3 separate regions of the Homo sapiens genome follow, and all the other regions are linked to region 1. Evidence: fine-mapped expression QTL. A gene starts in region 1. Each other region holds a variant in brackets. All regions are shown on one strand. Distances are from middle to middle.

Region 1 (8,183 bases):
CACTCACCCTTGTAAACATCAGGGAAGAGACCTTGACATTTGGACTGTGATTGCTGATTGGACGGGAATGGGTTGGCAGGGGAAGTGGGTGAGATGTTTTAACCAGGAAAAAGAAAAAAACAAAAACAAAACTATGAATGTGTGAAAAGAGACTTCTCAAAGAAAGAAAGGAAGAGAAAAGTACTGGTCACTCCCCACACAGACAGAATGCCATGGAGTTGCTCTTTCTTGCCATGAGTTTAATGACAAGCTTCCTTCCCCTTCATATGCCAACTAAGCAGCAGCCAGCAGGTCATTCCCCGTCTTTGCTGCCCAGCCAGGCCTAGAGTCTTCCCCAAACACAGTCACAGATATTCCCAGGCTTGAATGCCATCCAGAGACTAGTCATCTGATGCAATTTCCTGTGGTCTGACAAACGAACTCCCATCCAAACACGTTGTGCTTGGGGAGTCTGACTATATGATCACATCTCCCAGGACTCAGGCCCACTCTGACCACAGGATTCTTCTAAAGACACCACCGACAGAAGTGTGTGCAATTGCACCATATAATTTTTGTCTGGGAAGTGAAATATCTCTGTCGTTACATCATCTTCCTTAGCATAGTGATCCCTTAAAAGAAGAAAGCCTAAATAAGATCCCTTCTCAAAGCCAAACTATTAAAACAATCCTTTTTAAATATTCTTTCCTGTCTTCCATGCTGTACAAGTACAGCTTTCACACAATTTCTCTTCTGATCTTCAAAACAATGCACGGAGGGGTGTATTATTCCTGTGTCCTAGTCCAGCCAGGACTTCCTGCTCCCCTTTCCCCCCGATTCCTGCAAAGGTGACATGGCCAGCCCGGCCAATTCACGTCTGAGAGACTGGCTTCCTGTGACAACCTTCACCCCCCTCCCCTGACCCACAGGCCTGACACAAAGAGACTGCCGGAAACTCCCCACAACGGCCAAGTGGGTAGCCACAGTGTCCTGGAAAGGAATTCTAAGCCCACAACAGAGCATTTCTCATCTAGCTGTTTTTTGTTTTTTTTTTTTTAAATGGGATTGGGGTTGGCGACCAGCCAAAGACGGGTGGCAGAATGATGAAATCATACAAGCCCACAGCACCGATTGATGTCGTAGTGGAAATGGGGACAGGCTTTTGTGCTAACCAGAGTGTTCCTACATACACTCTCTGATTAATAATAGTGATGGCCCAGGAACAGCCGTGACAGTCAAAGAGAAACATTGCTGTATTTGTAACATTCCATTTTTTTAAAGAGTGTATATTCATATATTCTTTATGAAATCTAAGTTATCTTGAGAAATGAAAAGAAAATGGCCATTGCTGCCACTTTGAGAGCCCTCCGACTCAGGGGTGTTGTGTGGGTTGGGGGAGATTTCCAACTCCCTGCTTAATTATCTCAAAACACCCCATCCATTCGGGTCAGCCAGCATTTGACTGCCTGCTACTGCGAAGCTCAATACTGCACTCTGCCTAATAAGCACAAAGCCCGCGGGTCTCTCCAGGAAGGCAGGGGTGGTGGGTCAGAAAGAGCTGGCTCTCAAATCGCCCATGCCTGTGATTGGATGGGGAGGAGTTGAGACAATAGACACACAGCCAACTAACCAAAGCCAGAGACAAAGGAGGTAGATTCTAGATCAGTGTTGGCATAGGAGTTGGTCCTGAAGAACTGCTGGGATTTTGATGAGGAAGGGAAGGGTTGGCGTGGGTGGGACAGTCTATAGGAGGAAACATCTTGGAAGAAAATTAGGATGTAGATGAGAAGCAACTTATGGTCACTTCTAATTCCACTCCTATCCCCTGGCCACACATTCCATTCCTCTAAGGTGTCCAATCTATACACCCCTGCCACCACCCCTATCCCATCTCAGCAGGAGACAATATGTGAAAAGAAAGTTCTTCATTTTTCCTTCTTTTCCATTTCTTTCTTCCTGTCTTTCTTTCTTTTTTTTTTTTTTGTAACAGAGTCTCGCTCTGTCGCCCAGGCTGGAGTGCAGTGGCGCGATCTCGGCTCACTGCAGGCTCCACCCTGGGTTCACGCCATTCTCCTGCCTTAGCCTCCCGAGTAGCTGGGACTACAGGCACCCGCCACCTCGCCCGGCTAATTTTTTGTAGTTTTTAGCAGAGACGGGGTTTCACTGTGTTGGCCAGGATGGTCTCAATCTCCTGACCTCATAATCAACCCGCCTCGGCCTCTCAAAGGGCTGGGATTACAGGCATGAGCCACCGCGCACAGCCCTTTTTTTTTTTTTTTTTTTTTGAGACAGAGTCTCGTTCTGTTGCCCAGGCTGGAGTGCAGTGGTGCAATCTCGGCTCACTGCAACCTCCACCTCCTGGGTTCAAGCAATTCTCCTGCCTCAGCCTCCTGAGTAGCTGGGATTATAGGCAAGCACTACCATACCCAGCTAATTTTTGTATTTTTAGTAGAGACGGGGTTTCACCATGTTCGTCGGGCTGGTCTCGAACTCCTGACCTCGTGATCCGCCCACCTCGGCCTCCCAAAGTGCTGGGATTACAGGCATGAGCCACCAAGCCAAGCCCACTCGTTTTTCATTCTTGATATTGACAGACTGCCCAGAGACAGACAGGAGTGGGTAGTGAGGGTCAGAAGGATTAAGGAGCTTGCCTAGCCGATGAGGAAGGGAACAAGATAAGATGCAAACCTCAGTCTCTGACTCTCAGCCAAGTGCTCACTACCCCAACTAGCTGTCAAATGAGGTGGATGGGGCCTTGGTTAGGTACATAGACACCTGAGTCATATCAACCTGGTGTGAATCCCAGCTCTGATGTTGAGCGATTGGCCTAGCCTCTCTCTGCCTCCATTTTCTCTTTTTTCATTTCATTTTTCTTTTTTGAGGCAGAGTCTCACTCTGTCACTGCCTCTGTTTTCCATAGCAAAATGGAGTTAATAATGCTTACATGAGGGATTAAAACGAAGACAATGCCTACCTAATGCTTAGAATGGTGCCTGGAACATAGGAACAATGTTGAAACAGTCTTTCATTCTTCCCTCCTATCACTGTGATCATCAGTACCACCACACACTGCTTCTCATTTAGTGCCTGAATTTTAGAGCCTGCCTGGAGGCTGGAGCCCTGCCTGGACATTTCCCTTAATCTTGTTATCCTCCTCAGAGAGGCGGCACCCACCCCATTGGCAGACGCCACGGGAATTCTCTGGGCCTGCTTGTCATCACTCCAGATGTTGTTTAGAGTTCTTCTGTTAGCACAGCTGTTTCTAGGGTCTGGAAAAACTCTAAGGACCCCCAGGAGGATACACACCAGATTGGGTCTGGGCTCACACCACCCTGCATCCCCAGAGCCTCCCTGGACGCTGTTTGCAAGGTCCTCACCGCCTGGAAGTCCAGGAGCCATTTTTAGGGAACAGCATTCAAGCTCAACATGGCAAGTTCCCTCTTTCCTGCAGGGGAGGACCAGAAGGGAGCCGGAGATGGGGGAGAAGGGTGGGAGGTGGATGGTTTGGAAAAGGGATGGAGACCCAGACGGAGAGAAGCCAGCCAGCCAGGGTGAGGGAACAAGCTGCTGTGCTGCCCAGGAGAGGCCTGGCCTCAGGCTGCCAGCCTCAGGGAGGTAGATGCGGCTGTGACAGCAGCAAAGAATGACGGCCAAGGGCGACAGCAGGGGCTGGCCATGCTGTAAAGGGGCTTCTTGGGAGGGTCCAGCCTCAGGAATCAAGGGGAACTCCTGAGCCGAGAATTCTGAAGATCTCCTCCCTCCCTGAAGCTGTGGGCTGGGCCATCGGAAAACTTTCAGTTTTGTTTCCTTGCCTGCAAGAAACGAAACTCAACCGAAAGCCTGCAGAGAGCAGAACATGGAAGGAGACTTCTCGGTGTGCAGGAACTGGTAAGAAAGTGCTTTCTCCAGCGGCAGACCCGGGCTGGCGAGGGAGAGACGTAGACGACATAGGGCTGTTTCTGAAGGGAGCAGAAAGTGGTTCCTGCATAAGAACACTTAGGAGGACAAGCAGCTGGAGACCGTGGGCCCCAAGGGTAGGAGGGTTTAAACTTGGTAATCTCTGGGTGGGGGTGGGCAGCATTACCTCCACTTCACTGCAGCCCCTTTCCCCCAAATGTTAGGCTTTCTGGGACAGTTCTGAAGCCAAATAGCCCGGCCAGTGGTCCCAACTGGGCTACTCATACTTGTGAGACCTTGGGTCCTAATTTGGGGTTCTGATACTATGACCTTCACACCCATCTGTGAAAGAAAGTGTCCCACGGAGATTCTCCAGGACTACTCTCACCCTCCTTGGAAAGGGAGCCGTGGGGCGGGGCAGGGGGGACAGAGCAGGGGGCTGGGACCACACCTCTAACGGGAGGGGGGGCGCGGAATCTGACCGATCAAAAAGCCCCATTCTCAAAGCTCCCTACCTGTGACAGGGACCTGAGTGGACCCTCCCCAGAGAGCTTTGCTCCAGCCAGACCCTTCAAGTACTCTGGTTTCTCAACCAGCCCAGGAAGAGCAGGGGGAGAAGGGGCCAGGTCAGGCAGAGGAGAGAGAGCAGAGGAAGGGAAGATGATGCTGCCTGTGTGCCCGCTGCCTGGGCAGAAGAGGAGTGAGGCTTTGACAGTCCCTCTCGGAGCACGTCCCCTGTGCCAGGAACATGGGCATGTAACTCTTCTCGTCCCCTGGGCCTTTACGGCTACAGCCACCCCATTTCCCTTCTCCCAAGCTGCCACAAGCAAGAGCTGATGGAAATGAAAGGAGTCATTTCTTTCTTTCTTCTTCTTTTTTTTTTTTTTTTAAGATGGAGTTTCGCTTCTTTTTGCCCAGGCTGGAGTGCCTGGAGTGCAATGGCGCGATTTCAGCTCACTGCAACCTTCATCTCTCGGGTTCAAGTGATTCTCCTGCCTCAGCCTCCCGAGTAGTTGGGATTACAGGCGTGCACCGCCATGCCCGGCTAATTTTGTATTGTTTTAGTAGAGATGAGGTTTCACCATGTTGGCCAGGCTGATCTCTAACTCCTGACCTCAGGTGATCCACCCGCCTCGGCCTCCCAAAGTGCTGGGATTACAGGCATGAGCCACCACACCCAGCCAAAAGGGGGCACTTCTTGGCAAAAAGGACGGTTAGAGAAAAATGCCCTGCCCAGGAAGTGGGAGGCTCAGAACCCTTCCTTCACTGTGGTCTCCAGGAAGAACCTCGGAGTCTCTGTGAGTTAGCGCAGGTGAACCTGAAGGCAGGGGAGACTTGGGAAGCTCTCGCTTTGGAGATTTTGGAAGTTGGCATGGCCCTGGCAGGAAGCGTGAGCCTAGCAGGGCTGCGTTCCTAACACTGTGGACCAAACAGGGGCACCAGAAAACAAGAAAAAAGATTCAAGAGAATTTGGCACTTCTCTCAAATTATTTAAATTGAAATAATTTAATTATTTACATTATTTAAAATGAAATGTTTCATTTTAAAAACAGCCTTATAGAGGTATAATTGACCTACAATAAACCTCACATTTTAAAGGGTAGCAATTGATAAGTTTTGGCCTAAGTTATATACATCCATGAAACACCATCCCCGTAATTGAGATAATGAAGCTTCCTGTCACCCCAAAAGCTCCCCATGCCCCTTTGTAATTCCTCCCTCCTGCTCCTTCCCATGCCCTGCCCCAGCAATGTAAGAGCTCTGTAGATCATCCTTATTCTTATTAGATGCTGCCTCACTGTTCTGACTTTTGGACCCACACAGGGAGTGTGGGGCAGGTGGTGTCATCATCATCACATGTTCAGTGCTTAAGGCCTCTGGAGATCTAGCCCTGGGTATGAAATACAGCTCCATGTTTTATAATATGAAAATAAGTCTATTTTTCTATCCCCACACCTTGACCCTGTAGTAAAAGACATGTAGTCTCTGCCAACTTCACCCTCCATGAGGCTTACTGCCTGCGGTTCCTGGTCCTGTGTCCGGAGTGTGAGGAGCCTGTCCCCAAGGAAACCATGGAGGAGCACTGCAAGCTTGAGCACCAGCAGGTGAGGAGGCGGCAGGGAGGATGGGGTCTGAGAGTCAAGGTGAGTGTTCAGTCCTCCCTGCAGGTGAGATGGGGTCTGAGAGTTGGGGGACGAGGGTCTAGTCCTCCCTGCAGGTGAGATGGGGTCTGGGAGTCAAGGCAAGTGTTCAGTCCTCTCTGCAGGAGAGATGGGGTCTGAGAGTCAAGGCGAGTGTTCAGTCCTCTCTGCAGGTGAGATGGGGTCTGAGAGTCAAGGCAAGTGTTCAGTCCTCTCTGCAGGTGAGATGGGGTCTGGGAGTCAAGGCGAGTGTTCAGTCCTCTCTGCAGGACAGATGGGGTCTGAGAGTCAAGGCGAGTGTTCAGTCCTCTCTGCAGGTGAGATGGGGTCTGGGAGTCAAGGCGAGTGTTCAGTCCTCCCTGCAGGTGAGATGGGGTCTGGGAGGGGCAAGTGTTCCATCTTCCCTGCAGGAGAGATGGGGTCTGGGAGTCACAGAGTGGGTCCAGTCCTCCCTGCAGGAGAGATGGGGTCTGAGAGTTGGGGGACGAGGGTCTAGTCCTCCCTGCAGGTGAGATGGGGTCTGGGAGTCAAGGAGAGTGTTCAGTCCTCCCTGCAGGTGAGATGGGGTCTGGGAGGGGCAAGTGTTCCATCTTCCCTGCAGGAGAGATGGGATCTGGGAGTCACAGAGTGGGTCCAGTCCTCCCTGCAGGAGAGATGGGGTCTGAGAGTTGGGGGACGAGGGTCCAGTCCTCCCTGCAGGTGAGATGGGGTCTGGGAGGGGCAAGTGTTCCATCCTCCCTGCAAGAAAGAAGGGGTCTGGGAGTCAGGGAATGGCTCCAGTCCTCCCTGCAGGAGAGATGGGGTCCGGGAGTTGGGGTGAGGGCTGGGGACTTAAGGCAAGGGTCCAGTCCCCCAGGCAGAGACTCACTTGAGGGCCATGGGAAGTCATTTAGCCCCTCCACACAAAGCCCATGGAAAGGAAATGTTAATCCTGCCTTTTTCATGCTAATCTGAGTCTACCTCCAGTTTTCCTATTTCCAATCCTTTCCCTACAGGCTTATGGATCTGGCATAGGCAAGAGGTTCTGGTTTCAGGAAAGACTGGCTGTTCTCTTGAGATCTGTAAAGAGAGGATGTGAAAAAGGAAGGTCCTGGAAGGCAGTCAGATGGAGCCCTGTTTCCCGCCTTTCCATGTCCATTCCTCCTGGGGCCCCTGATCTGTCTCTCTGGAGATACTCAAGCTCAGGCAGCCGTTGCCAACTCAGACTGGTCTGACAAACACTTCTTGAACACTGGGCGGGGTGCTAGAGAGACACTGAGGTAGCCACATCGGATCCCTGCCCTCTGGGAGTTCACAGACCCAAACCCGGAACACTGTGAGCCAAAGTGGATGTGGGGCAGGCCCTGGGTGCTGGGTGGACCCACATCTGGTGTGTGTGTGTGTGTGTGTGTGTGTGTTTAGGTTGGGTGTACGATGTGTCAGCAGAGCATGCAGAAGTCCTCGCTGGAGTTTCATAAGGTAAGAGCCCCATGTGATTTCTCCTTTACAGCCAAATAGACCAACCTGAGAAAAGGAGAGGAAGGGGAAACGGGAGGCCAGTAATAGAGATTTCCACCTGACCACTCTTTTCACCCCATTAGGCTTGGAGAGCAGTGGAGAACTAGCCCACCGCATAACACAGGTTCTCCTGTCCCCCAGATACTGATCAGAAGGGTTTTCCATGGTCCATGAGTCCATCAGAGCTCAGATCCCCCGAAGGCAGTCCCGCACTCTGGCCCTTCTCATCTGCTTTCTCGTATTGGCCCTAATTCCCTAGGGAGATGGGCACAAGTCCTTGATCTGCCTACAGTCAAAGAGGCCAGTGATCGGCCAGGCGCAGTGGCACACGCCTGTAATCCCAGCACTTTGGGAGGCCAAGGCGGGTGGATCACGAGGTCAGGAGTTCGAGACCAGCCTGACCAACATGGTGAAACCCCGTCTCTACTAAAAGTACAAAAATTAGCTGGGCGTGGTGGCACACGCCTGTGGTCCCAGCCACTTGGGAGGCTGAGGCAGGAGAATTGCTTGAACCCGGGAGGCGGAGGTTGCAGTGAGCCAAGATCAAGCCACTGCACTCCAGCCTGGGCAACACAATGAGACTCTGTCTCAAAAAAAAAAAAAAAAAAAAAGGGCCAGTGATCATGCCCTTCCTGCTGCCTCCCACAGGCCAATGAGTGCCAGGAGCGC
Region 2 (8,183 bases), 23 kb before region 1:
TCTGGTGTGACACAGCACATTACCAGCTATAGTGGCTATGGAGAGAGATCCCTTCTGCTTTTCTAAAGCAGAGTAAAATGGACTTTGTCTTACAGCATAGGTACCACCTCAGCCATGGTAGAGTAGAGCACCAAGCAGGCACTTATGGTTCCTGATCCCAGGCTACGCCCTTAGATGGCATTTCTGGACCTGCCCTGGGCCAGAAGGGAGCCCACCGCCCTGAAGAGTGAGACCCAGGCCTGGTAGCATTCACCACAAGCAGGCTGAAGAGCCCTTGGGCCTTGAGTGAACATTGGTGGTATCCTAGCAGTACCCCACCTTTGACCCTGTGGGCCTGTGGTGGTGGTGGCCATGGGGAGAGACTCCTCTGCTTGTGGAAAGGGAAAGAAAGAGTGGGGAAGATTTTGACATGGGGCTTGGGTGTCAGTTCAGCAGCAGTACAACACCAGGCAAATTCCTAAAATTTCTGACTCCAGGTACTGGCTTCTAGATAGCATCTCTGGACCTCCCCAGGGCTGGGAGAACTTGCTGTCCTGAAAGGAAAGACATGAGTCTGGCTAGCTTTACTACTTACTAATTGCACGGCTCTAGGGCCTTGAGCGAACATAGGTGGTATCCAGATAGTGGTCACAGTGGGCCTTGACGAGACCCAGGGCTAGGCTGGCTTCAGGTCTAACCAAGTGCAATTCCAGTGGCGGAGACAACAGAGGTGCTTGTGTCACTCCTGCCCCAGCTGCAGGCAGATCAGCAAAGAGAGATAAGCTCTTTATTTGGGAAAAAGTAAGGGAAGAGAGCAAGAGCCTCTGCCTAGTAACCCAGAGAATTCTTTCAGATCTCATCAAAGACCACAAGGCAGATCAATTCTGCTATTAAGAGAGTCTGATGCTTTCTTGAGTATGACAGATACATTTTTCAACTCCAGAATTTCTGCTTGATTCTTTTTAATTGTTTAAATCTCTTTGTTAGATGTATCTGATAAAATTCTAAATTCCTTCTTTGTGTTATCTTAAATTTCATTGAGTTTCCTCAAAACAGCTATTTTGGGGCACATGTTCTCAGGACCTCCTGAAGGCTGTGTCATGGAAAAAAAAACCCCAGCTATTTTGAATTATCTGTCTGAAAGGTCACATATTTCTGTATCTCTGGGATTGGCCCCTGGTTCCTTATTTAGTTCATTTGGTGAGGTCACATTTTCCCAGATGTTCTTGATGCTTATAAACGTTCATTGGTGTCTCGGCATTGAAGAATTAGGTATTTATTGTAGCCTTTGCAGTCAGAGCTTGTTTGTACCCATACTTCTTGGGTAGGCTTTCCAAGAATTTGGAGGGACTTGGGTTTTCTGATCTAAAATTTTGGTCACCGCAACTGTATCTGCACTTGAGGCATCCCAAGCCCAGTAACACTGTGGCTTTTGCAGGATTGGCCAAGCAGAAGAAAAAATCAGTGAGTTTGAAGACAGGCTATCTGAAAATTCATAGTTGAAGGAGTCAACAGACAAAAGAATGAAGCACACCTACAAGAATTAGAAAATAGGCTCAAAAGGGCAAATCTATGAGTTATTGGTGTTAAAGAGGAGGTAGAGGTAGAAAGTTTATTCAAAAGGATAATAACAGAGAACTTCCCAAACATAGAGAAAGATATCAATATTCAAGTACAGTAAGGTTATAGAAAAACCAAGCAGATTTAACCCACAAAAAAGACTACCTCTAGGCATTTAATAGTCAAACTCCCAAAGGTCAAGGGTAAAGAAAGGATCCTAAAAACAGCAAGAGAAAAAACACAAATAACATACAATGGAGCCGCAATACATCTGGCAGCAGACTTTTCAGTGGGAACCTTGCAGACCAGAAGAGAGTGGCATAGCATATTTAATGTGCTGAAGGAAAAAACTTTTACCCTAGAATAGTATATCTAGTGAACATATCCTTCAAGCATGAAAGACAAATGGAGACTTTCCCAGACAAATAAAAACAGAGAGATTTCATTAACATCAGAGCTGTCTGAAGGAAATAAATGCTAAAGAGAGTTCTTCAATCCGAAAGAAAAGGACGTTAATGAGCCATAAGAAATCATCTGAAAGTACAGAACTCACTGGTAACATTAAATACACAGAAAAACACAGAATATTATAACACTGTAATTGTGGTGTTGAAACTATTCATATCTTAAGTAGAAAGACTAAAAGATGAACTAATCAAAAATAATAACTACAACAACTCTTTAAAGACATAGTAGAATAAGATATAAATAGAAGCAACAAAAAGTTAAATAGTGGAGGATGAAGTTAAAGTGTAGAGTTTTTATTAGTTTTCTCTTTGCTTGCTTGTTTGTTTATGCAATCAGCATTAATTTGACATCAGTTTAAAATAATGGGTTATAATGTATTATTTGCAAGCCTCATGGTAACTTCAAACCAAAAACCAACAGATACACAAAAATTAAAAATGAGAAACTAAAACATACCACCAGAGAAAATGACCTTCACCAAAAAGAACACAGGAAGGAAGAAAAGACCACAAAGCAACCAGAAAACAAATAACAACATGGCAGGAGTAAGTCCTTACTTATCAATAATAACGTTGAATGTAAATGGACGGAACTCTCCAATCAAAAGACGTAGAGTGGCTGAATGGGTGAAAAAACAAGACCCAATAATTTGTTGCCCACAAGAAACACACTTCACCTAAAAAGACACACATAGACTGAAAATAAAGGGGTGGAAAAAGATATTCCTTACCAATGGAAACCAAAAAAGAGAAGGAGTAGCTATAACTATATCAAAATTATATTTTAAGACAAAAGCTGTAAAAAGAGACAAAGAAGGCCATTACATAACAATAAAGAGGTTAATTCAGCAAGAAAATATAATGATTATAAAAATATATGCACCCAACACTGGAGCACCCAGATGTATAAAGAAGGTATTATTAGAACTAAAGAGAGAGATAGACTCAATAAAATAACTACTGGATACTTCAGTACCCTACTTCCAGCAGCGGACAGATCATCCAAACAGAAAATCAATAAAAAAAAATTGGACTTAATCTGCACTATAGACCAAATGGACCTAACAGATATTTATAGAATATTTCATCCAATGGCTACAGAATATGTATTCTTCTCCTTGGCACTGTTCTCAAGGAGAGATATGTTAGCCTACAAAAAAAGCTTTAAAACACTCCAAAGGATTGAAATAATATGAAGTATCTTCTCCGACCACAATAAAATATAACTAGAAATCAATAACAAGAGAAATTTTGGAAATTATAAAAACACATGGAAATTAAACAATATGCTTCTGAATGACCTGTGTACCAATTAAGAGATTAAGAAGAAAATTGAAAAATTTCTTGAAAAAATAACAGGAACAATATGCCAAAACCTGTGGGATACAGTGAAAGCAGTACTAGGAGGAAAGTGTGTAGCTATAATAAGCACTTACGTCAAAAAAGTAGAAAAACTTCAAATAAACAATCTAATGACACCTCTTAAAAAACTAGAAAAGCAAGAGCAAACCAAATCCTAAATTTGTAGAAAAAAGAAATAATAAACATCGGAGCAGAAATAACTGAAGTTGAAATGAAGAAAACACTACAGAAGATCAATGAAATGAAAAGTTGGTTTTTTTGAAAAGATAAACAAAGTTGACAAAGCTTCAGCCACACTAACTGAGAAAAAAAAATACAGAAGACCCAAATGAATAAAATCAGAGATAATAAAAGGAGTCACCAAAACCAATGCTGCAGAAATCCAAAGGATCATTAGTGGCTATAATGAGAAATTGTATGCCAACAAATTGGAAAATCAATTAATAGAAGAAACTGATAAAAGAGCATGGTGGTGCAGGATATGGGGTCAGTATAAATACCAACGCATAGTCCCTTTGCAAGAGTGAGGGCCCAAGTTAAGGTAATGAGTTCGGCTTGCTGAGAGGTAGTGGAGATGGGGCACAGCGGTAGCCTCAATGATAGATGTGGAAGATACTATAGCATAGCCTGCCTTTGCTGGTGTTTGGCGATTAGGCCTGGTGGAACTGCCATCAATAAACCAAGTGTGATCAGGGTGAGGAACAGGAAAGAAGGAAACATGGGGAAATGAAGTGAA[T/C]GCCAAGTGTATCAGAGAGATACAGTCATGGGGGCCAGGTGTGGTATCAGGAATAATGTGGGAGGCCGGATTGAAGTCCAGGCCAGGAACAATGGTAATTGTGGGAGACTCAACAAAGAGTGAGTACAGCTGAAGGAGCCAGGGAGCAGAAAGTGTATGTGTCAGGTGTGAGGAAGAAAATAGATTTTGGAAGTTATGAGAACTGTATAGAGTGAGTTGAGCAAAGTTTGTGATTTTGAGGGCCTCTGGAAGTATTAGGGCAGCAGCAGCCACCGCATGCAGACATGAGGGCTAGGCTAAAACAGTAAGGTCAAGTTGTTTGGACAGAAAGGCTACAGGGTGCGGTCCTGGCTTTTGTGTAAGAACTCCGATTGCACAGCCCTGCACTTTGGCTGTGTGTAATGAAAAAGGTTTGGAATGAGTTAGGGAGAGCTAGTGTGGGGGCAGCTTCTAGGGCTGTTTTTAAGGAACGGAAAGGAGTGGCAAAGGGATTTAGGATCTATGGGGTCAGCTGGGTTTGGTTTTGTGAGTTTACATAATGGTTTAGTCAGGATGGTAAAGCTAGGTATCCAAAGGCGGAAGTACCTAACCATGCGTAGGAAGGAGAGGAGTTGTTTTGTAGAAGGGATTGGGGTTTGGGGAATTAGCTGGACATGATCAGCAGGCAGAGCATGTGTGTTTTCGTGAACAATTATGCTGAGATAGGTAACAGATGAGGAAGAAATTTGGGCTTAACTGAAGTCATGGGGGCTGTCCGTGAAGCCTTGCAGCAGTACAGCCTAGGTAATTTGTTGAGCCTGATGGGTGTCAGGGTCAGTCCAAGTGAAAGCGAAGAGAGGCTGGGATGAAGGGTGCAAAGGAATAGTAAAGAAAGCATGTTTGAGATCCAGAACAGAATAATGGGTTATGGAGGGGTTGTGGAGGGAGGTATTGAGGATAGGAGAGTATATGGCTTTGGCATCACGGGGTGGATAGGCCAGACAATTTGGTTGGTAAGGCCAGATCCTGAACTAACCTGTAAGGCTTGTCCAGTTTTTGGACAGGTAAAACAGGGGAATTGTAAGGAGAGTTTACAGGCTTTAAAAGCCCAAGCTGTAACAGGCGAGTGATAACAGGCTTTAATCCTTTTAAAGCATGCTGTGGGATGGGATATTGGCATTGAGCAGGGTAAGGGTGATTAGGTTTTAATGGGATGGTAAGAGGTGCATGATCAGTCGCCAAGGAGGGGGTAGAGGTGTCCTATACTTGTGGATTAAGGTGGGGGTATATGAGAGGAGGATGCGAAGGAGGCTTTGAACTGGGGAAAAAGCAGCAATGAGGTGTGGCTGTAGCCCAGGAATAGTCAGGAAAGTAGATAATTTAGTTAAAATGTCTCGACCTAATAAGGGAGCTCTAGGCAGGTGGGGATAACTAAAAAAGAGTGCATAAAAGAATGTCCATGTTGGCACCAGAGTTGGGGAGTTTTAAGAGGTTTAGAAGCCTGGCCGTCAATACCCACAACAGTTATGGAGGCAAGGGAAATACACCCTTGAAAAGAAGGTAATGTGGAGTGGGTAGCCTCCGTATTGCTTAAGAAGGGGACGGACTTACCCTCCACTGTAAGAGTTACCCAAAGCATCCGCGATGGTCCAGGAGGCTTCTGAGGCGATCGGGCAGTGTCAGTCTTCAGCTGCTAAGCCGAGAAGATATGGGAAGGAGTCAGTCAGAGCCTCGGGCCAGTTGGACAGTCCAGTTTCCAGTGGGGACTCACATAGATGGGACACAGCTTAGGAGGAATCCCAGGCTGCGGGCATTCCTTGGCCCAGTGGCCAGATTTCTGGCACTTGTAGCAAGCTCCTGAGGGAGGAGGTTCTAGAGGAACCCCTGGCAGCTGCGGTTCAGGTGTTTGGAGTTCTTGTGTGCTGGAGATGTGGCTGGGGTTTGTCTCACAGCGGAGGCAAGGAATTGCAACTCAGAAATACATTGCTACTTGGCTGCCTCTACTCTATTATTGTACACCTAATTAAGTCCTGTTGTGGGGTTTGAGGGCTGGAATTTAATTTTTGGAGCTTTATTTAATGTTGGGAACAGATTGGGTAATAAAATAAAATGCATATTGAGAATAAGACAGCCTTCTGACCTTTCAGGATCTGGGGCTGTAAAGAGTCTAAGGGTTGCTCCTAAGCAGGCCATGAACTGGGCTGGGTTTTCGTCTTTACCTTGAGTAGTTCCTTTAAGTTTGTCTTAATTAACAGCTTTGTAAGCTGCCTTTTTAAGCCCTTCAACTAGGCAGGAAACCATGTAATCTCGCCTAGCTATACCTGGGGAATTTGCCTGATAGTTCCATTGGGATCTTCTCGGGGAACTGCTCTAATGCCTTCATGGAGGTCTGGCTCATGAAGCTGGCAGTTATCAGTGTGAAATTGGGCTAGAGAAAAAACTCTTTCCCGTTCATTTGGGGAGAGGGTAGAAGTTAGGATGACATTTAAGTCATTCCAGGTTAAACTGTAAGACAGATTTAGATATCGGAATTCCAGTATATATTTAGTGGGGTCTGATGAGAAAGAGCCTAAACGCTGGCTGATTTGGGAAAGGTCTGATCGAGAAAAAGGCACATGTACCCTGACTATGCCTTCAGCTCCAGCCACCTCTCTAAGAGGAAATTGTTGGGCAGGTGGGGAGGGCTAGTCGTGGGAACAAAATTGGAAGCCAGACCGGTGTGAGGAGGGGAGGTGATTGAAGGATTTTAGGGTTGGGGAGCAGAGGCTGAGGAAGAATTGGGACCTGGCTTGGCCTGGCAAGGAGCAGCCTGGGGAGAAGGGGAGAGGTCAGATGAGTCCATAGAAAAGAAGGATTCAAAGGACTCATATCTTGGGGTGGAGACTGAAGGAACAGACAGGAGAGAAAGAAGAAAGATTTGGGACAAGTCTCATTGGGAGCAGAGACTAGGGAGGGACCGATGTGTAAAAGAATGCCTGGACGTCAGGCACCTCACACCTTTTGCCCATTTTTGACGAAAATTATCTAGATCTTGTAAAATGGAGAAATCAAAAGTGCCGATTTCTGGCTATTTAGAACCATTATTGAGTTTGTATTGGGGTCAAGCGGTATTGCAGAAGAAAATAAGACACTTAGATTTTAGGTCAGGCAAGAGTTGAAGAGGTTTTAAGTTCTTGAGAACACAGGCTAAGGGAGAAGAAGGAGGAATGGAGGGTGGAAGTTTGCCCATAGTGAAGGAGGCAAGTGTAAAGAGAAGGGTAGAGACACAGAGAAGGCGGGTGGGGAGCAGCCCTGGGCTGCAACGTGGGTGAGCAGCCAAAGCAGGCGTCCCCGCAATTGACTTGCCACCAAGGGAATGTGGGTGAATGACCAAGGCAGGTGTCCCTGCGGAGATCAGACACCAATGGAATGTGGGTGAATAATCAGAGAGGCGTCCCCGCAATGATTAAACACCAGGGGAAGGCTGCCTTCCCGAGTCCGTGACCAGCGCCGGAGTTTTGGTTCCACAGATAAAATGTGTCTCCTTTGTCTCTACCAGAAAATGAAAGGAATTGAAATTAAGAGAAGGGAGAGATTGAAGCATGGCACCAAGATTGAAAGGAGAAAGAGGTTGAGGGATAGTGAGAGAGGTTGGAGAAGAGAGTAAAAAGAGGCCACTTACCCGATTTAAAATCGGCGAGATGTTCCTTGGGCTGGTTGGTCTGAGGACTTGAGGTCATAGGTGGATCTCTTCACGGAGTGAGGGTGAAGACAGGGGACTGGTCTCCTGAAGGAGTCCCACTGACCCGGATCTTCGGCACCAAATGTTTCACGTGTCCATGTGAAGAGAGGACCAAACGGGCTTTGTGTGAGCAGCAAGGCTGTTTATTTCACCTGGGTGCAGGCAGACTGAGTCCAAAAAAGGAGTCAGCAAAGGATGGTGGGATTATCATTAGTTCTTATGGGTTCTGGGATAGGCAGTGGAGTTAAGAGCAATATTTTGGGGACAGGGCGCGGATCTCACAAAGTACATTCTCAAGGGTGGGGGGAATTACAAAGAAACTTCTTAAGGGTGGGGGAGATTATAAAGTACATTGATCAGTTAGGTTGGGGCAGAAATA
Region 3 (8,183 bases), 27 kb after region 1:
AGATACAGGAAGGGGACAGGCCATGTCAGAATTCCAGAATCTTGGGGAAAGGGGAAGTGGGACTCTCTGGCCTCTAGGACATAATCTTTATCACATCACGCAGGACCCCTTGATCCAGCACTTCCCACTGCTCCCACGTGATCCAGTTCCTCCATTTCCAGCCCACTTAACAAGTTAAGTGCCAGGTGACCAAACCATTTTTAGCTCCCTGAATGGGAACACATCACATACATTCACAGTTCTGTGGCTTTGCACGTATTGTTCCCTCTGCCCAGAATGCATCAGCTCCTCATCCACTACCACTAGGCCCACCTGATCTGCCTTGCAAATCCTACTCACCCTTCAAAACCCAACTCAGACGTCGCTTCCTCTGAGCAGCCCTCTCTACTTCCAAACACTATATTTAGTCAAACAGAGTAAGTCACCCTGCATGTGTGCTACCCCACACTATGAGTCTGCCTGAACCTTCCTGCTCTCTCACAGGGTTATAATTGAGTACTGGTCTGTATCCCTGGATAGACTGTGAAATCCTTGCAGGTGTGGACTGTGTCATGAATGTATCATTGAACCACCCACACCTGGCACAGTGCCTAATGCACTTGGGACCACAGGGAAAGCTGGTTCATTTGAGTTTAATCTCTGTTTGACAGGTAATGGCTCTTCCTTTTTATTCCCCACAGAAAGCAAGTGATTGCTTTCCTTTCCTCATTTTTGGAAGCCCTGCCTAACACACAGCTGCACTGTACATCCCAGTTCCTGGATGGACGAAGAAAGTGAACTGATCCAGCCCCAAGACCAGAGCTGCTGGGCCTTTCTGCCCGATTTGTGTCTGTGCCGTGTTTTCTGGTGGCTAGGAGACAGGGACAGGTCCAGGGCTGCTCTTGTCTGCAGAAAGTGGAACCAGATGATGTATTCTGCTGAGCTCTGGCGGTACAGAACCATCACCTTCAGCGGGAGACCTTCCAGGGTACATGCATCTGAAGTTGAGTCAGCTGTTTGGTATGTTAAGAAGTTTGGTCGTTATCTGGAGCACCTGGAGGTCAAATTCATGAATCCTTACAATGCTGTCTTGACCAAGAAGTTCCAGGTCACCATGCGGGGCCTCCTGTCTTGTCTGAGTAAGAGCAACAACCGTCTGAAATCTCTTTCCATCCAATACCTGGAGCTGGACCGCCTGGTATGGAGGAACAGCATCAGGAGCTCATTCATCAGCAGCTTGAGCTTCTTCTTAAAGAAGATGGGCAAACGCCTGGATTATCTCAACCTAAAAGGGGCCAGGCTGACCGTGGAGCAAGGCTGCCAAATTCTCGACTCCCTCAGCTACATGAGGAATGAGAATGTGATCTCAGAGCTCAACATCGAGGACTATTTCAGCCATCACCTTGCTGTCTACAACAGCCCCCAGTTCAAAAAGACCATGTCCACATTCCACAATCTTGTGTCCCTGAACCTCAACTACAACTGTATCTCCGACGAGCTGCTTGAGAACTTGTGTGAGAATGCCAGCACCCTCCGGACCATCAACATCAAATGCCACGTTCATGACCCCCACGGACAGGTCATCTGGGGTATGTCCTGGGCCAAGCTGGCCAGGCAGGCCACCAATCTGAAGGTGAACTTCTTCTTTGAACGGATCATGAAGTACGAACGCTTGGCCCGAATCCTCTTGCAGGAGATCCCGATCAGGAGCATCAGTCTGAGAAGCTGCTATTTCAGTGACCCAGACTGTTCAATGAGACCCACTCTGATAGATCTCCTGCCCACCTTCCGGCACACTCTGCAGGTAGGTAGGACTTGTGAGGAGTGACTGCTGTTCAGGTGACTGGCTTCCCCAGAAGAAAGCCCACTGCTGCCTGCTCTTGGCTAGGCTCCCAAATGTTCACTCAATCTCAAATTGAAGTTCTAGGAAATACCACCAACTAAGCCTCCTGCCCTCCTCCCAAGACCACAGTAGGCAACAGAAGCTGCTACTCACTTCCTACATGTGGTACAGACACAAGGAATTATCTGGTTAGCTGTCAGCTAGGGAAAACCCCTAAGTCCCCACTCAGAGCTATGAAGCCTGAGCCAGGAGGTGCCTTGCAGGCGAATAGCGGCTGGGCTGCCTCTTCCTACTTTTCCACGAGGTCACAGCAGCATGCAGGAGACCCTGTGGCTCCTATGGTCAGATCTCAGTGGGGGATCTGTCTGGTTATAGCAGTGCCAGTGCCTGGTAATTGGGGAGATAGAATGGGGAGGACCAGGCCAGACAAAAAGTCAAATTTGATTTACACAACCGAAGAGCTCAGAGTTTCTGGGTTGTTCCCTAATCTAGTAGCTTTCTCACCTGTAAGATCAGGATCATTTTGTCTTTCCAAGGACCTCACAGTGGTTGTGACAACTGATATTAACAGGTTTATGTATCTCTACAAACATGGATGGACTCCAAGGTGCTAATACCTCATTAGGTACCCACATAAACCAAAGGTGGGGTACGGCAGACATCATCATGACCCTTGTGTGCTGCAGAAGAACTTGAGGTTCAATGACCAGCCCACAGTCACCCAGCCAGTCCACTGCAGGGCTGGGACGAGCACCTTGTATACTCCAAGTACACTGCCTCCAAATTCCAAGTTTTGCAACCTTGGATGAGATCACCATCATTCTCAAATCTCTTCCTCTAAGAACTACATGTCCAATGTCCCTTATCTAAAAAGCCCCCAAATTCCATTAACACCAGACCTGTCCTACAAGAAATGCTAAAGGGAGTTCTTCAATCTGAAAGAAAAAGGCATTAATGAGCAATAAGAAATCATCTGAAGGTACAAGACGTATACTTACTATTACTTACTGGTAATAGTAAGTACATAGAAAAACACAGAATATTGTAACACTGGAATTGTGTGAGTAAACTACTCATATCTTACGTAGAAAGACAAACATATAAGCTGATCGAAAATAATAACAACAACAACTTTTCAAGACATAGACAGTACAGTAAGATACAAACAGAAATAACAAAAAGTTAAACAGTAGGGAGACAAAGTTAAGGTAAAAAGTTTTTATTAGTTTTAGTTTTGCTGTTTATTAGTTTGTTTATGCAATAGTGTTAAGTTGTCATCAATTTAAAATAATGAGTTACAAGATATTGTTTGCAAGCTTCATGATAACCTCAAATCTAAAAACATACAACAGATAAAATAAAAAGCAAGACATGAAACATACCTCCAGAGAAAATCACCTTCCCTAAAAGGAACACAGGAAGGAAGAAAAGAAGGAAGAGAAGACCGCAAAAAACCAGAAAACAAATAACGAAATGTCCCGAGTAAGTCCCTACTTAGTAATAACATTGAATACAAATGGACTAAACCCTCCAATCAAAAGACATAGGTGGCTGAACAGATTAAAAAGAAAGACTCAATTATCTGCTGCCTACAAGTAACACATTTCACCTATAAAGACACACATAGACTGAAAATAAAGAGATGGGAAATGATATTTAATGCCGATGGAAACCAAAAAAGAGGAGGAGTAGCTATACTTATATCAGACAAAATAGATTTCAAGACAAAATCTATAAAAAGAGACAGAGTCATTATATAATAATAAAAGAGTCAATTCAGCAAGAGGATATAACAATTGTAAGTATATATGCAGTCAACACCAGAGCACCCAGACATATAAAGCAAATATTATTAGAGCTAAAGAGAGAGATAGACCCCTATATAATAACAGCTAGAGACTTCAACACCCTCCTTTCTGTATTGGGTAGATCTTCAAGACACAAAATCAACAAAGAAACAGCAGACTTAATTTGCATTATAGACCAAAAGGGCCTAAAGGATATTTACAGAAAATTTCATCCAATGGCTGAAGAACACACACTCTTCTCTTTAGCACATGGATCATTCACAAGAATAGGCCATATGTTAGGTCACAAAAAAGTCTTAAAACAGTCAAAAAATTGAAATTATAGCAAGCATCTTCTCTGACCACAACAGAATAAAACTAGAAATTAATAACGAGAAACTTTGGAAATTATATGAAGACATGGAAATTAAACAATATGCTCCTGAATGACCAGTTGGTCATGAAGAGATTAAGAAGGAAATTGAAATATTTTTGAAACAAACAATATGCAGACACAGCTACCAAAACCTGTGGGATACAGTGAGCAATACTAAGAGGGAAGTTTATAGCTATAAGCGCCTACATCAAAAAAGAAGAAAAACTTCAAATAAACATTCTAATGACACACTTTAAAGGACTGAAAAAACCAAGAGCAAACCAATCCCATAATTGGTAGAAGAGAAGAAATAATAAAGATTGGAGCAGAAATGAGTGAAAGTGAAACAAATAATGCAAAAGATCAGTGAAATAAAAGCTTTTTGAAAAATAAACAAAATTAACAAACCATTAGCAAAAATAAGAAAAAATGAGAGAAGACCCAAATAAATAAAATCAAGAGATGAAAAAGGAGACATTACAACCAATACCAGAGAAATACAAAGGATAATTAGAGCCTATAACGAGCAACTATATGCCAATAAATTGGAAAACCCAGAAGACATGGATAAATTCCTACACACGTACAAACTACCAAGATTGAACCATGAAGAAATCCAGAACCTGAACAGACCATTGACAAGTAACAAGATAGAAGCTGTAATAAAAAGTCCCCAAGCAAAGAAAAGCCCTTGACCTGATGGCTGTACTGCTGAATTTTATCAATTTTATCAAACATTTACAGAAGAACTAATACCAATCCTACTCAAACCATTCCAGAAAAATAGAAGCAGAGGGAATAATTCTAAACTCATTCTACAAGGCTGATATTACCCTGATACCAAAGCCAGATAAAGACACATCAAAAACAAGAAAACTATAGGTGAATATTCCTAATAAACATTGATGGAAAATTCCTCAACAAATTATTGGCAAACCAAATTCGACAACACATTACAAAGATCATTCATCCTGACCAAGTGGGATTTATCCCAGGGATGCAAGAATGGTTCAAAATA[T/G]GCAAATAAATCAGTGTGACACCTCATAACAACAGAATGAAGAACAAAAAGCATATGATTATTTTAATTAATGCTGTAAAAGCATTTGATAAAATTCAACATTCCTTCATGATTAAAACTCTCAAAAAACTGGGTATAGAAGGAGCATACCTCAATACAATAAAAGCCATATATGACAGACCCACAACTAGTATCATATTGAATGGAGAAAAACTGAAAGCCTTTTCTTTAAGATCCAGAACAGAGCAAGGATGCCACTGTTACCACTGCCATTCAACATAGTACTGGAAGTCCTAGCTAGAGCAATCAGATGAGAGAAATAAAGGGCACCCAAATAGAAAATGAAGTCAAATAATTCTTGTTTGAAGATGATATGATCTTATATTTGGAAAAACCTAAAGACTCCACCAAAAACAAAAACAAAAAAAACTATCAGCTAAACAAATTCAGTAAAGTTGCAGGATACAAAATCAACATATAAAAATCAGTAGCATTTCTATATGCCAACAGTGAACAATCTGAAAAAGAAATCAAGAAAGTAATCCTGTTTATAATAGCTACAAATAAAATTAAATACCTAGGAATTAACCGAAGGAATGAAAGATCTCTACAATGAAAATTATAAAATATTGATGCAAGAAATTGAAAAGGACACAAAAAAATGGAAAGATATTCTATGTTCATGAGTTGGAAGAATCAATGTTGTCAAAATGTTTATACTATCGAAAGCCATCTACAGATTCAGTGCAATCCTATCCAAATACCAATGACATTCTTCACAGAAATAGAACAAAGAATCTTAAATTTATATATATATATGTGTGTGTGTGTGTGTGTGTGTGTATATATATATATGGAACCACAAAAGATGCAGAATAGCTAAAGCTGTCCTGACCAAAAAGAACAAAACTGTAGAAACCACATTACCTGACTTCAAATTATATTACAGAGCTATAGTCACTAAAACAGCATGAGACTGACATAAAAACAGATTTTAAGCCCCTTATATATTCTGGTTATTTATTAATCCCATAAAGACCAATGGAACAGAATAGAGAACCCAGAAACAAATTCATTCATCTGTAGTGAACTCATGTTTGACAAAGATGCCAAAACCATACATTGGGAAAAGGACGATCTCCTCTTCAGTAAATGGTGCTAGGAAAACTGGATAGCCATATGCAGAAGAATGAAACTAGACCACTATCTCTTGCCATATATGAAAATCAAATCAAAATGGACTAAAGACTTCAATCTAAGACCTCAAACTATGAAACTGCTACAAGAAAACATTGGGGAAACTCTCCAGGGCATTGAACTGGGCAAAGACTTCTTGAGCAATACCCACAAGCACAGGCAATCTAAGCAAACATAGACAAATGGGATCACATCAAGTTAAAAAGTTTCTGTACAATGAAGGAAACAATCAACAAAGTGAAGAGACAACCCACAGGAAGAATGGGAGAAAATATCTGTAAGCTACCCATATCACAAGGGATTAATAAATAAACAGAATATACAGAGCTCAAACAACTCTATAGGAAAAAAAAATAGTAATCCAATTAAAAAATAGGCAAAAGACTTGAACAGATATTTCTCAAAAGAAGACATATAAATGGCAAAATAAGTATATTAAAAGGTGCTCAACATCACTGATCATCAGAGAAATGCAAATCAAAACCACAATGAGATATTATCTCACCCCAGTTAAAACGATTTTTATTCAAAAGACAGGCAATAGCAAATGCTGGAAAGGATGTAGAGAAAAGGAAATTCTCATACACAGTTGGTGGGAATTTAAAGTAGTACAGCCACTGTAGAGAACAGTTTGGAGGTTCCTCAAAAAACTAAAAATAGAGCTTACATATGATCCAGCAATCCCACTGCTAGGTGTATACCCCAAAGAAAGAAAGTCAATATATCAAAGAGATGTCTGCACTCTCATGTTTATTGCAGCACTGTTCACAATAGCCAATATTTGGAAGCAACCTAAGTGTCCATCAATGGATAAAGAAAATGTGGTACATGTACACAATGGAGTACTATTCAGTCACAAAAAAGAATGAGATTCTGTTGTTTGCAATAACATAGATGCAACTGAGGTTGTTATGTTAAGTGAAATATGCTAGGCACCGAAGGACAAACTTTGCATGTTCTCACTTATTTGTGGGAGCTAAAAATTAAAACAATTCAACTCATGGAGATAGAGAGTAGAAGGACGCTTACCAGAGGCTGGGAAGGGTAGTAGGGGGTGCAGAGGGAAGTGGGGATGGCTAATGGGTACAAAAAAAGTTAGAAAGAATGAACAAGATCTAGTATTTGATAGCACGACAGGGTGTCTATAGTCAATCATCATTTAATTGTACATTTTTTAAAAACTAAAAGAGTATAATTGGATTGTTTGTAACACAAAGGATAAATGCTTGAAGTCATGGATACTCTATTTACCCCATTGTGATTATTACACATTGTATGCCTACATCAAAATATCCCATATACCCCATAAATATATGTACCTATGTACCACAAAAATTAAAAATTAAAGTTAAAAACCCCCAAATCATCATGGCTATCAGGCCCAGAGCCAGGTCGTGGAAATGTTACAGAACAACTCAGCCAGGCTCAGCATCTCTGCCCACACACATCTTCCCTTTTGGTGCTCTTCCAGAAATTAACTTGTGAATTCAACAACAACCATGAGTCACTCGACGAGGAGCTGCACCTCCTCATCATATCCTGCAGGAAGTTGTTTTACTTCAAAATCTGGGCTTTCCTTGATGTTAGTTTTGTGGAGCGGATCCTGAAGAGTCAGAAAGAACGGCAGTGTGCCCTGCGTGTATTCAAGGTAAGAGGTCCCCAGGCTGGTTCCACGGCGTAGAGTGGGGGCATCCAGGAATGGTGCTTCTGCTCTGGAACGAAGGGCTGAATAAGGCAGTGGGGGACAATCATCTGTTCATTGAAAATCAGCAGTTTCAAAGAAGGGAATCTGGAGCTCTCTTTTCTAGTAGTTGGGTTTGGTCTTTTTCTGATTCTGCCAACATATTTTCCTGATTCAACAACTGTATGTGTAGATCATTTAAGTTGCTGTCAAGCCCTGAAAAGTGTAGTCACCGTGTGTGTGTGTGTATGTGTGTGTGTGTGTGCGTGTGTGCGTGCTCATATGTGGATGTATTTCTCTGT

What was found. PIP is the estimated chance that this variant, and not a neighbour inherited with it, causes the effect.
Region 2: its variant is fine-mapped to the expression of XAF1 in whole blood (TOPMed, PIP above 0.99).
Region 3: its variant is fine-mapped to the expression of XAF1 in whole blood (INTERVAL, PIP 0.95).

Annotation. Positions count from the first base shown.
Region 1 is chr17:6,752,244-6,760,426 of GRCh38, forward strand. XAF1 (XIAP associated factor 1) reads left to right here and starts at 3,803. Exons shown (of 7, transcript NM_017523.5): 1 at 3,803-3,867; 2 at 5,846-5,981; 3 at 7,419-7,475; 4 at 8,163-8,183. The coding sequence starts at 3,836. RefSeq lists enhancers at 1-161, 187-481, 3,460-3,979.
Region 2 is chr17:6,729,133-6,737,315 of GRCh38, forward strand. No RefSeq gene overlaps it. Among named protein-coding and RNA genes, the nearest start is that of SLC13A5, 20 kb to the left of the region's middle. The variant T/C (reference allele first, on the strand shown) is at 4,105.
Region 3 is chr17:6,779,109-6,787,291 of GRCh38, forward strand. FBXO39 (F-box protein 39) reads left to right here. Exons shown (of 4, transcript NM_153230.3): 2 at 681-1,783; 3 at 7,672-7,848. The coding sequence starts at 761. Among named protein-coding and RNA genes, the nearest start is that of FBXO39, 7.0 kb to the left of the region's middle. The variant T/G (reference allele first, on the strand shown) is at 5,004.